2 separate regions of the Homo sapiens genome follow, and region 1 is linked to region 2. The links come from fine-mapping of genetic effects on gene expression. A gene starts in region 2. The other region holds a variant in brackets. All regions are shown on one strand. Distances are between the middles of the regions.

Region 1 (5,367 bases), 21 kb before region 2:
TTCAGAGGCCTCCTTCCTTCCCCTTGGCCAGCAGGGGGCTCACAAGGAGGTCCTGCAGGCGTCCTGCTAACTCCCTGCCCAGCCTCTGTGAGCACCGCCCTGAGGCAAGGTGGGTCTGGCTGCCCCGAGGCCTGGGGGCCGCCCGGCCTGGTCACACACAGGCATCCTGCACTCAATCTGCCCCAAGCCTCCCTCCCCCCAGCCTTTGTCCCATGCCATGCCCCCTGCCAGGGATGCCCTCCCCAATGCTACTGTCCACTTGGACCCCCAGGGAGAGTCTCTCCTCTGTACCCACACCAAATCACAGGAATACAGCCTGATCTGGGACCGGGCATGTTCTAGCTTGTGTGATAGCTTCCTATTCACACCTTTTATCCTCCAAACCTAATTGAAATCCCAGAGACCCAGATTGTCATCTCACAGCCACCGTCGTCACCGTCCGGGTGCCCTGGGGCCCGTCGCCTTCTGAGCCTTGGTTTTCTGGGGTTACGATGGAGACTGCGGGGGTGTGCGAAGCTTCAGAGTACAGTAACCAGGTGTCACAGAGGTGCACGGAGCACGGGACATGCTGAAAGGGGCTGGTTGCCCTCTTCTTCCTGGGAAAGGGCTCTGAGCCTCAGATTCCAGACCCCTGGAAAGGACGGACAAAAAGGTGAGAGCACAGCTGCCTCGGTCTTGCTGTTTCCAGGTAAACAGTTCTATGGACTCGATGGAGGAGCCTGGCTCCCCCCTACCCATACATGGTCTCCGAAGATGTTCCCGGACAAGGCACTCCCCAGCCGCCCCCTCTCCACGCCCCCACCTGCTACGTCCTGTCCTCTGAACAACAGAAGCAGGGGAGGACGAGGCGTTTGAGGAGTTCAGGGAGTTGGAAGAGAGTTAGCAGATTTCTGAGAACCCCAGGTGCAGCTTAACCTACAAATGGAAAATTATGGTGATGAGAAAGAGGATCTTTGATGAGGCAGAGTCTTGGGGGAATCGGATTTTGGCTGACGTGCAAGAAAAAGGCAGGCTGGGCGGGGAGGCAGGAAGAGGCAGGTGTCCCTGCAGGGAAAGGGGGCGGTGGAGGTGGGAAGCGTGTCCTGAGCGGATGTGGGTGGGGGCGAACAACGGGAGGTGCCCCCCAAGGCCTCGGGGACCCCATTTCCTGCACTGCCAGCTGCCAGCCCTGGGGACCACTGAAGAGAGCTTGGACCCGCCTGGCTGGCTGTTTACGTCTCACCCATCATGCATTAAGCATGCACCTGCTGGGTGCCCCCAGTGACTCCTGGTGCCACCGAGGTACTTCCATAGAGTGCGTGTCTGTCCCCACACCCCCGCAGAGTGGGCTGCTCCTGCCCGCCCGGCCCCACCACCCACTCCCACTGTTGCATGGCCTCTTGTAGCTAGACGCCAGCTGGCCGGTCTCTGGGTGGGCCGCCACGGCTCTTCCCATCCTTCGCGCCCCATTTTTCCTGCCCAGTCATGAGTAGAGTGGATTTCCATCCCCGGAGGGCTGGGCCAGCCATGCTTCCTGTCGGCCGGTGGCATGCAGTGAGGACGTCCCACCTTCGGAAGCATGACCTCAGGAAGTCCCCAGTTTCTGCTGAGATCCTGAGATGCCCAAGAAGGAAACCAGTCCAGCCTCCCGCAGGCAGAGCCCTGTGAGGGGCCGCGGCGCCTCGGACCACCAGCTGGATGCTGCGGGGAGGGGAACTCCCCACCACCCGCCAACCCACAGCCGTCTGACTGATGTGGGCTCCCGGCGAGGGAGGCTGCAGCCTCCCAGACAGCTCTGGCTCAGGCTGGGTGGCTGGGAAGTGCACATAGATTAGCCAGGGTTCTCCAGAGACACAGAACCAAAGGATATATGTGTGTGTCTGTGTGTGCATGTGTGTACAGAGACACAGAGACAGAGACAGACAGAGAGAGAGAGAGAGAGAGACAGAGAGAGATCTACATGGGAATCGGCTCACAGAATCACAGAGGCTGAGAAGCCCCACCATCTGCTGTCTGCAAGCTGGAGGCCCAGGGAAGCCAGTGGAGCAATTCAGTCCAAGTTTGAAGGCCTGAGAACAGGAGCTCGATGTCCAAAGTCAGGAGGAGATGGATGTCCCAGCACAGGAAGAGAGAGAATTCCCTCCCCTGCCTTTGTCCCGGGGG[A/G]GGCCTCAGTGGTTTGGGTGACACCTGCCCACATTGGGGAGGGTGGACTTGTCTACTTGGTCTGCTGATTCAAGTGCTGATCCCTTCTGGAAACTTGGGGGAATGGGATTTTGGCTGTCGTGCAAGGAAAAGGCAGGCTGGGCGGGGAGGCAGGAAGAGGCAGGTGGTCCTGCAGGGAGAAGGGGCGGTGGAGGTGGGAAGCGTGTTCTGAGCAGATGTAGGTGGGGGCAAACAACGGGAGGTGCCCCCCAAGGCCTCAGAGACCACAAGACCTGCTAGCTGCCAGCCCCGGGGACTGCTGAAGAGAGCTTGGACCCACCCGGCTGGCCATTACAGCCTCACAGACACGCCCAGAAGTGATGTTTTTTACCAGCTCTCTAGGCGCCACTTACCCCAGTCAAGTTGACTCCTAAAATGAATATCACAGCCAGGTCAGAGGTATGCACAGACTTTCCCTCTGAATTCCCTCGACGCCCTTTGAAGGGGTCCTATTATTATTCCCATCTTATAAAAGAGGATGTTTGAGAGTTTCAGTGATGGCTCCTGACCACACAGCTCAGGGCGGTGAAGCCCAGACACACATCAGCCTTCACGCCTGGGCTCTCAAGTTCTCCCCAGCCTGGTTTTCTCTGAACCCAACCCAAGTCTCTCCACTCCTGAGGGATGATACATGCCCACCCCTCTCCGGAAGCCTCCACGCCCACCCTCTCCTTCCACTTCTCCCAGCTGCATCTCCCAGCCACGCTGCCTCTGACCTGTCTTCCCCAGACCCAGCCTCATTTCTCCAGACCCCGGGCCCCTATCTCCCCTTTCCTCTGCCATTTGGCAGATTTGCTATGTGGCCCCGGGAACACAGTCTTCAGCAATCTCTGTCTAGCACGGTGCAGGGAATTAAAGGTGACTCACACCTGTAATCCCAACAACTTTGAGAGGCCGGGGTGGGAAAATCCCTTGAGTCCAGGAGTTTGAGATCAGCCTAGGCAGCATCTCCAGATCCCTTTGCTACAAAAACATTAAAATTAGCCAGGCTTGGTGGCATGCACCTGTAGTCCCAACTACTCTGGAGGCTGAAGTGGGAGGATCGCTTAAGCCCAGATGGTTGAGACTGCAGTGAGCTTTGATGGTGCCACTGCACTCCAGCCTGGGTGACAGAGCAAGACCCTGTCTACAAACAAACAAATGAACAGAAAAAAGACTGCAAATTCTTTGCCCCCCTCCCATTGAGAGGAAGCTGTTCCCCCTCCCGTTGAATCTGTGGGCTCCGGGCTCCATCAAGAGCATGTGGGGACTGAGTCATTTGTTCACCCGCGTTCACAGCAGCACCGTCCCCAACAGCCAAAAGGGGAAAGCAGCCCAAGTGTCGTGGACCGATGAATGGATACACAAAACGTGGTCCTTCCACACAGTGGAGCATTACTCAGCCTTCAAAAGGAATGAAGGCTGGGCACAGTGGCTCACGCCTATAATCCCAGCACTTTGGGAGGCCAAGGCGGGGGGGATCACCTGCCTGAGGTCAGGAGTTCAAGACCAGCCTGGCCAACATGGTGAAACCCCGCCTCTACTAAAAATACAAAAATTAGCTGGGTGTGTTGGTGGATGCCTGTGATCCCAGCTACTCAGGAGGCTGAAGGAGGAGAATCGCTTGAACCCAGGAGGTAGAGGTTGCAGTGAGCTGAGATTGCTCCATTGCACTCCAGGTGGGTGACAAGAGCAAAACTCATTCTCAAAAATAAATAAATAAAAAATAAATAAATAAAAAATTTTTAAAAGGAAATGAGGTGCCGTCATGTGCTGCAATGTGGATGAAACTCGAGGACATTATGTAAAGTGAAATAAGCCAATTGCCAAAAAACTGATACTGTATGATTCTGCTTATGTGAAGTGTCTGAAATGGCCTTGTTCATAGAGGTAGAGCAAAATGGTGGGTACCAGCGGCAAGAGGGGCAGAAGGATGGAGAGTTATGGTTTAATGCATACAGAGTTTTTATTGCAGATGATGAAAAAGTTTTAGATATAGACAGTGCCGATGGTTACACAATATTGTAAATGTATTTAATCCCACTTACGAATGATTAAAATGATAAATCTTATGTTTATTTCATCACTACCAAAAGGCTGTGGGTGCAGGGGTGCTGGTTTCTGGTCCTAGCCTAAGAGACTGGCAGTTTCCACCTTCTATCTCTTGGGACAGTAGCTCTGGGAGCCCTGAGCTGTCATGCAGGAAGTCCAGCTACCCTGAGACCACCATGCTGGAAAGGCCACAGGGAGGAGCTCTGTGGACAGTCCCAGCTGAACCTTGCCTTCCAGCTGTCCCTGTCAAGATGCCAGGCATGTGAGTAAAGCCATCATGGACCCTCTAGACCAGACTGCCCACCAGCAGGGTACCATCTGGCAGCCACATGGAGCAGAAGAACCGCCCAGCTGAGCCACTTCCAAACTCTTGACCCACTAAGTCATGATCCACAATGAACCCATCATAGGGATGGTTGGCTTTGCAGTGTGGATAATGAGGATGTCATGTGAGAGACAGCTGAGGTACTGACCCAGGGTGTGACTGATGCTCCCCATGTACCCAGAGCTCACTTGTGAAATGAGGACCATGGGACATCATGAGGATGAGAGGCGGTGATCCAGGAGTGTGGACATTCAGCCAATGCCTGACAGAGCTGGGATATAAACACCTCAGCTCCCTCTCCCTCAGGGAAGACTTTGAGGCGTGTGCTCCAGCAGCTGCCCACAGTGGGGGTAGGCATGGAGACACACCCACTGTGGCCCATCTTCCCTTACCCATCTCACTCCCTGGGATGGTTAATTTTATGTGTCCACTTAAGTGCACTGTGGGGTGCCCAGACTACACACTGTGTCTGTGAGAGTGTTTCTGGATTAGATCAGCATTTGAATTGTGGACTCAGGAAGGTGGACTGCCCTCCCCAAGTGGCTGGGCATAATCCAATCCCTCAAGAACTTGAATAGAACAGACAGCAGAGGGAGGAGGAGTTCACCCCTCATTTCCTGCCTCGCCACTGGAGCCGGGACATCTCGTCATCTCTTGCCCCTGGACTGGATGTCCACCATCGGCTGCCCTGGTTCTCAGGCCTCCAGACCTGAGCTGAGTTTGAATCACACCTCAGGCTTCCCTGGGTTTCCAGCTTGCAACACAGATGGTGGGCCTTCTCAGCCCCCAGAGTCACATAAACCAGATTCCTCATCCTAAATCTCCTCTGT
Region 2 (5,367 bases):
GATACGAAGTCATCAAATGGTGAGAAGAGGGAGTCAAGATCTTCCTTGGAGCTTCAGTGGTGTAAATGTCAGAGGTGTTTGAACCAGAGCAACTTCATCTTGAATAGGGGCTGGGTAAAATGAGGCTGAGATCTGCTGGGCTGCATTCCCAGACAGTTAAGGCATTCTATGTCACAGGATGAGATAAGAGGTCGGCACAAGCTACAGGTCATAAAGACCTTACTGATAAAACAGTTTGCAGTAAAGAAGCTGACCAAAACCCACCAAACCAACATGGCGATGAGTGTGACCTCTGGTCGTCCCAGCTGCTACACTCCCACCAGCGCCGTAAGTTTACAAATGCCATAGCAATGCCAGGACGTTACCCTAAAGGGTTTAAAAAGGTAAGGCACGAATAATCCACCCCTTGTTTAGCATATCATCAAGAAATAACCACAAAAATGGGCAACCAGCAGCCCATGCTGCTCTGCCTATGGAGTAGCCATTCTTTATTCTGTTACTGGTGGAGGGTGTCCAGGTTCTTGGCATCTTGAACAAAGAATTGGACAAAATGCACAAAGCCACCGGGCGCGGTGGCTCACACCTATAATCCCAGCACTTTGGGAGGCCGAGGCGGGCAGATCACCTGAGGTCAGGAGTTCAAGACCAGCCTGGCCAACATGGCGAAACCTCGTCTCTACTAAAAACACAAAAGTTAGCCGGGCATGGTGACGCACGTCTGTAATCTCAGCTACTCAGGAGGCTGAGGCAGGAGAATTGCTTGAACCCGGGAGGCAGAGGTTGCAGTGAGGATCACGCCACTGCACTCCAGCATGGACAACAGAGACTCTGTCTCAAAAAAAAAAAAATGCACAAAGCAAAAAAAGAATGAAGCAACAAAAGCAGAAATTTTTTGAAAATGAAAGTACATTCCATGGTGTGGGGGCGGCCAAAGCATAGAGGCTCAGGGCCCCATTACAGAACTTGTGAGGTTTAAATACCCTCTAGGGGTTTCTACTGGTTACTTGGTGTACGCCCTATGTAAATAAAGAGGATGAAATAAAGTTACAAAATCATTTACTCAGTGTACACCCTATGGAGAGGGTATTTCCTGTCATAGCTGAAGTGTTCCCTGCCTCCAGACCCTGTTTTCCTGCCTCAATTCCTTTACTTTTCTAATAAACTTGCTTTCACTTTGTGGACTCGCCCTCAATTCTCTCTTGGGGTCTGGATCGGGACCCCTTTCTGGTAATATAGACAGAAAATACGGCCTTGACATGGTTGTCAGGAAACGACAGTAAGGCCTCCGAGGGTGGGGTTCTGAAGGGATGTTAAACGCCCCACCCCGAGGAAGGCTCTGGAGGCTCCAATCACTTTCAGCCTCTGCTACCAAGATGTCCGACCCTACCAATAAAACTTCCAGCAGCGGGGCGCGGTGGCTCACGCCTGTAATCCCAGCACTTTGGGAGGCCGAGGAAGGCAGATCACCTGAGGTCAGGAGTTCAAGACCAGCCTGACCGACATGGTGAAACCCCATCTCTACTAAAAATTTAAAAAGTTAGCCGGGCCTGGTGGCGCACGCCTGTAATCCCAGCTACACAGGAGGCTGAGGCAGGAGAATTGCTTGAACCAGGGAGGCGGAGGCTGCAGTGAGCCGAGATCGCGCCACTGCACTCCAGCCTGGGTGACACAGCAAGACTCCGTCTCAAACAAAACAAAACAAAAAACCTTCCAGCTTGGAGAAACTGAGAGTGAGCAGTAGGGAGTGAGGGGGTCCCTGGGAGGAACCAGAACTCATCCCGCTTCAGGGTGGGGCTGGCCCCCTTCTTGGCCTTGGCCGGGGCTTCGTGTCACGGAGCGCCCGAGGGACGGTCGGAGCCCACCCCAGCCCGCCCGCCGCCTGAGCCTGGCCGAGCTCTCTGCACCTGCACACGTCTGTAAAACGCGGATGAAACGCTTCTACGGAACCGGGTGGCTGAGATGAAGTGAGTTATGGGTATAAAGCGCTTAGAGCGATGCCTGGCGGACACTCGGTGCCAAATAAGCGTTCGCTGTGGCGACGATGACGCCTCCAGCCCAAAGCCCGTGGTCGAGCAGGGCCGGGCTCCCAGCGCTAGGGGGTTCCTAGGCGCGGCGCTTCGGGGGTCCTGGACACAGACACGGGGGACAGAGCTCCTACCAGCGACGATCCCGAGGGTCTGCAGCAGAGGGGCTGAGGCCCGGGACGGGGGTGGTCGCAGCGCCCTTTCCTGAAAAAACGGGGTTCGGCTCTAAGGCGCCCCCAAGCCCTGCCGGCAGCGCGGAACCCGAGCCGCTCAGAAGCCCGGGAGCCCCAAGTCTCCGGGACCAGAAGCGCCGCGGCCCTGACTTCCGGAAGGTGGACGGAACCCGCGGACGGGGCGGGCCCGCGTGGCGCACGCAGAGCCACTTCCGGGCGCGGCGCCGGCTTGGTGAGCGCGGGTACCCGCGGGCTTCCCCGGGCGGCTGCGTCCCCAGTAGCCCGGCCGGCCTCGGCACCGCGTGTCGTGGGGGTCCCGGGCCGCGGCTGCAGGGCCGGGGCGGCGGCGAGGCCGAGGGGCGGGAAGCCACTGCCCGGCCTGGCAGTGTGAACGTGCAAGTCGATCCCCTAACCCAGAAAGCCCCAGGCGCGGTCTCTATGGGCGGCCCCGCTCCTGCTTCTGTTTTATTTTTTTACGGACAGGGTCTCGCTCTACCGCCCGGGTTGTAATGCAATGGTGTGATCACGGCTCACCGCAGCCTCGACCTCCCGGGCTGAAGCGATCTTCCCGCCTCAGCCTCCTGAGTAACTGGGACCACAGGCGCGCCCTGCTGGTTTTTTTTTTTTTTTTTTTTGGTAGAGATGGGGGTCTCGCTATGTTGGCCAGGCTGGTCTCGAATTCCTGGCCTCAACGATCGTCCTGTCTCGGCCTCCCAAAGTGCCGGGATGACAGGCATGAGCCACCGCGCCTGGCCCCTTCTTTTGAATGGGCCTCCTTGCGTTTCCGTTTCAATGCCCCGTGCTACTTTTTTGGGAGCCCCAAGGCTGTACTGTTTGATTGACTCCTTTTTTTCCCCTTTCTTTTTAACCTAAATTAAAGCTGCCACTGCAGAGCCCCGCCATGGAAGACACGCCGTTGGTGATATCGAAGCAGAAGACGGAGGTGGTGTGCGGGGTCCCCACCCAGGTGGTGTGTACGGCCTTCAGCAGTCACATCCTGGTGGTGGTGACCCAGTTTGGGAAGATGGGCACCCTGGTCTCCCTGGAGCCCAGCAGCGTGGCCAGTGACGTCAGCAAGCCTGTGCTCACCACAAAAGTCCTTCTGGGGCAGGATGAGGTAAAGTGGATTGGCCGGGAACTGTGGCTCACGCCTGTAACCCTAGCACTTTCAGAGGCCTAGGCGGGCAGATCGCTTGAGGCCAGGAGTTTGAAACCAGCCTGGGCAACACAACAACACACACACAAGTCACTACAAAAAAACAAGTGCCTACACAAAATATATATATAGAGAGAGGCTGGGTGCAGTGGCTCACACCTGTAATCCCAGCACTTTGGGAGGCTGAGGCGGGCAGATCACTTAAGGTCAGAAGTTCCAGACCAGCCTGGCCAACATGGGGAAACCCCATTTCTACGAAAAATATAAAAATTAGCTGGGTGTGGTGGCACATGCCTGTAATCTCAGCTACTCAGGAGGCTGAGGCAGAAGAATCGCTTGAACCCGAGAGGCGGAGGTTGCAGTGAGCTAAGATCGTGCCACAGCACTCCAGCCTGGGTAACAGATAGAGACTTGGTCTTAAAAAAAAAAGGAAAAGAAAAGGAAACAAAAAATTAGCTGGGCCTAGTGGTGTGTGCCTGTGCTCCCAGCTACTTGGGAGGCTGAGGTGGGAGGATGGCTTGAGCCCTGGAGGTTGAGGCTGCAGTGAGCCATGATTGTGCCACTGCGCTCCAGCCTGGGTGAGAGAGCAAGACTCTGTCTTTAATAATAATAATAATAATAATAATAATAAAGTGGTCAGGAAGGGACCCCCAGGGAGGAGCATAAACCTCTCCAGTGGCTGTGATTTGTCAGTAAGGACATGGGGCATCTGGCGGACAAATACCCCTACAGCGATAGCATTTTCCGGGCATTTGTGGGTCTCAAGGCGCCCTGCTTGCCCTCAGTGGATGCTTTGTCCAGCCCGCAGGCATTTTATCCAGCAGACAAGCAGAAGCAGCAGTTTTGTCATTCGAGCCGCCTCCCCTGCCATGGTACATTACGTGAGCAGGCGGCTGGCTGTGCTGTGCTCTGTGGAGATCACACGTGAGATTCGACAGCACTCGCTTCTGCAGGCTTCTCTTTCCTGGGTTCTTTTAGATGAGAGAGAGCCAGAAGAGGCGGGGCTGCGGAAGGCGCTGGGAAAATGAATGGAGTGATGGTCTTTAGCAGTGTGCCCGTGACTGGAGTGTTCTGAGTGCTGCCAGAACTCTGAGTCACAGTTGCATGGACTTATGTGGCGGTTAATGGTGGTGTGGGAAGCCTGCCTGGGTTCCTAAGGGATACTTCATGAAAGCATTGAGGAAAAAACCAGGTTTCTTGCAGTTAAAATGGTTTCTTCTCCTTCCTTTACCAGCCTCTCATCCATGTCTTTGCAAAGAACCTGGTAGCGTTTGTGTCTCAAGAAGCTGGAAACAGAGCAGTCCTCCTCGCCGTGGCCGTGAAGGACAAAAGCATGGAGGGGCTGAAGGCGCTGAGGGAGGTGATCCGGGTGTGCCAGGTGTGGTGACCTGGAGGCAGCCGCCCCGCGCTGCTCAGCAGGACACGTGAACACCCAGACACCCACTCAGGGACTCAAGTCTCACCTCCCTCCCCGGTGGAGGGAGGAACTTTGGCACTAGCCCTTGGAGCCAGGAAAAAAGACTCGTGTCTCAGGCAGACTCTTACTCTGGTTACTAAGATCATCTGTGCATGACGGGGAGGGTGGAACAGGTCCCGGAGGAGTCGTGAATGGTTCTCACCAGGACCTGAATCGTTGCTTGTGTTTGAGAATTGGAGGAATGAGTCAGCAGGCGTGGCTCATGGCCCCCCCGTGTGCAGGATCAATTGTAGGAGGAAATTTCTTTTTTATTAAAAGCGAATGTGTATCCCAAAATACTTCACTGTCCTCCTTAACAGTAGCGAGACATTGCAGCCGCACAGCATGAGTTCAGTTTCATGGGCTTCATGAAGGGAAGCTTGTTGGGCAGAAACGCAGAGGGACGTAGTTCCCAGGAACTGGGTGGATCCCATGCTTGGGCCTGTGCACGCTGTCACCCAGCTCCAACTCCAGTAACTTCTCTGAGCCTGCTGGGAAGCTGGTGGCCGTCAGCGGACATCTCTTACTATCTTAATGTGTGTGCCCGTTACCGTGCTG

What was found. PIP is the estimated chance that this variant, and not a neighbour inherited with it, causes the effect.
Region 1: its variant is the best candidate, but not a certain one, in a credible set for the expression of PSMG3-AS1 in cerebral cortex (GTEx, PIP 0.69).

What each region holds. Positions count from the first base shown.
Region 1 is chr7:1,588,367-1,593,733 of GRCh38, reverse strand. It overlaps PSMG3-AS1 (PSMG3 antisense RNA 1), which reads right to left. Exons shown (of 5, transcript NR_027329.1): 5 at 4,108-5,367. It overlaps LOC105375123 (a long non-coding RNA gene), which reads right to left and starts at 1,295. Exons shown (of 8, transcript XR_001745048.2): 1 at 803-1,295; 2 at 422-631. The variant A/G (reference allele first, on the strand shown) is at 2,143.
Region 2 is chr7:1,567,071-1,572,437 of GRCh38, reverse strand. It overlaps PSMG3-AS1 (PSMG3 antisense RNA 1), which reads right to left and starts at 2,365. Exons shown (of 5, transcript NR_027329.1): 1 at 2,159-2,365. PSMG3 (proteasome assembly chaperone 3) reads left to right here and starts at 2,406. Exons shown (of 2, transcript NM_032302.4): 1 at 2,406-3,314; 2 at 4,588-5,106. The coding sequence starts at 3,099. The coding sequence ends at 4,740. RefSeq lists enhancers at 1,355-1,404, 1,415-1,484, 2,108-2,676, 4,383-4,951, 4,831-5,125 and 1 more and silencers at 1,785-1,864, 2,305-2,734.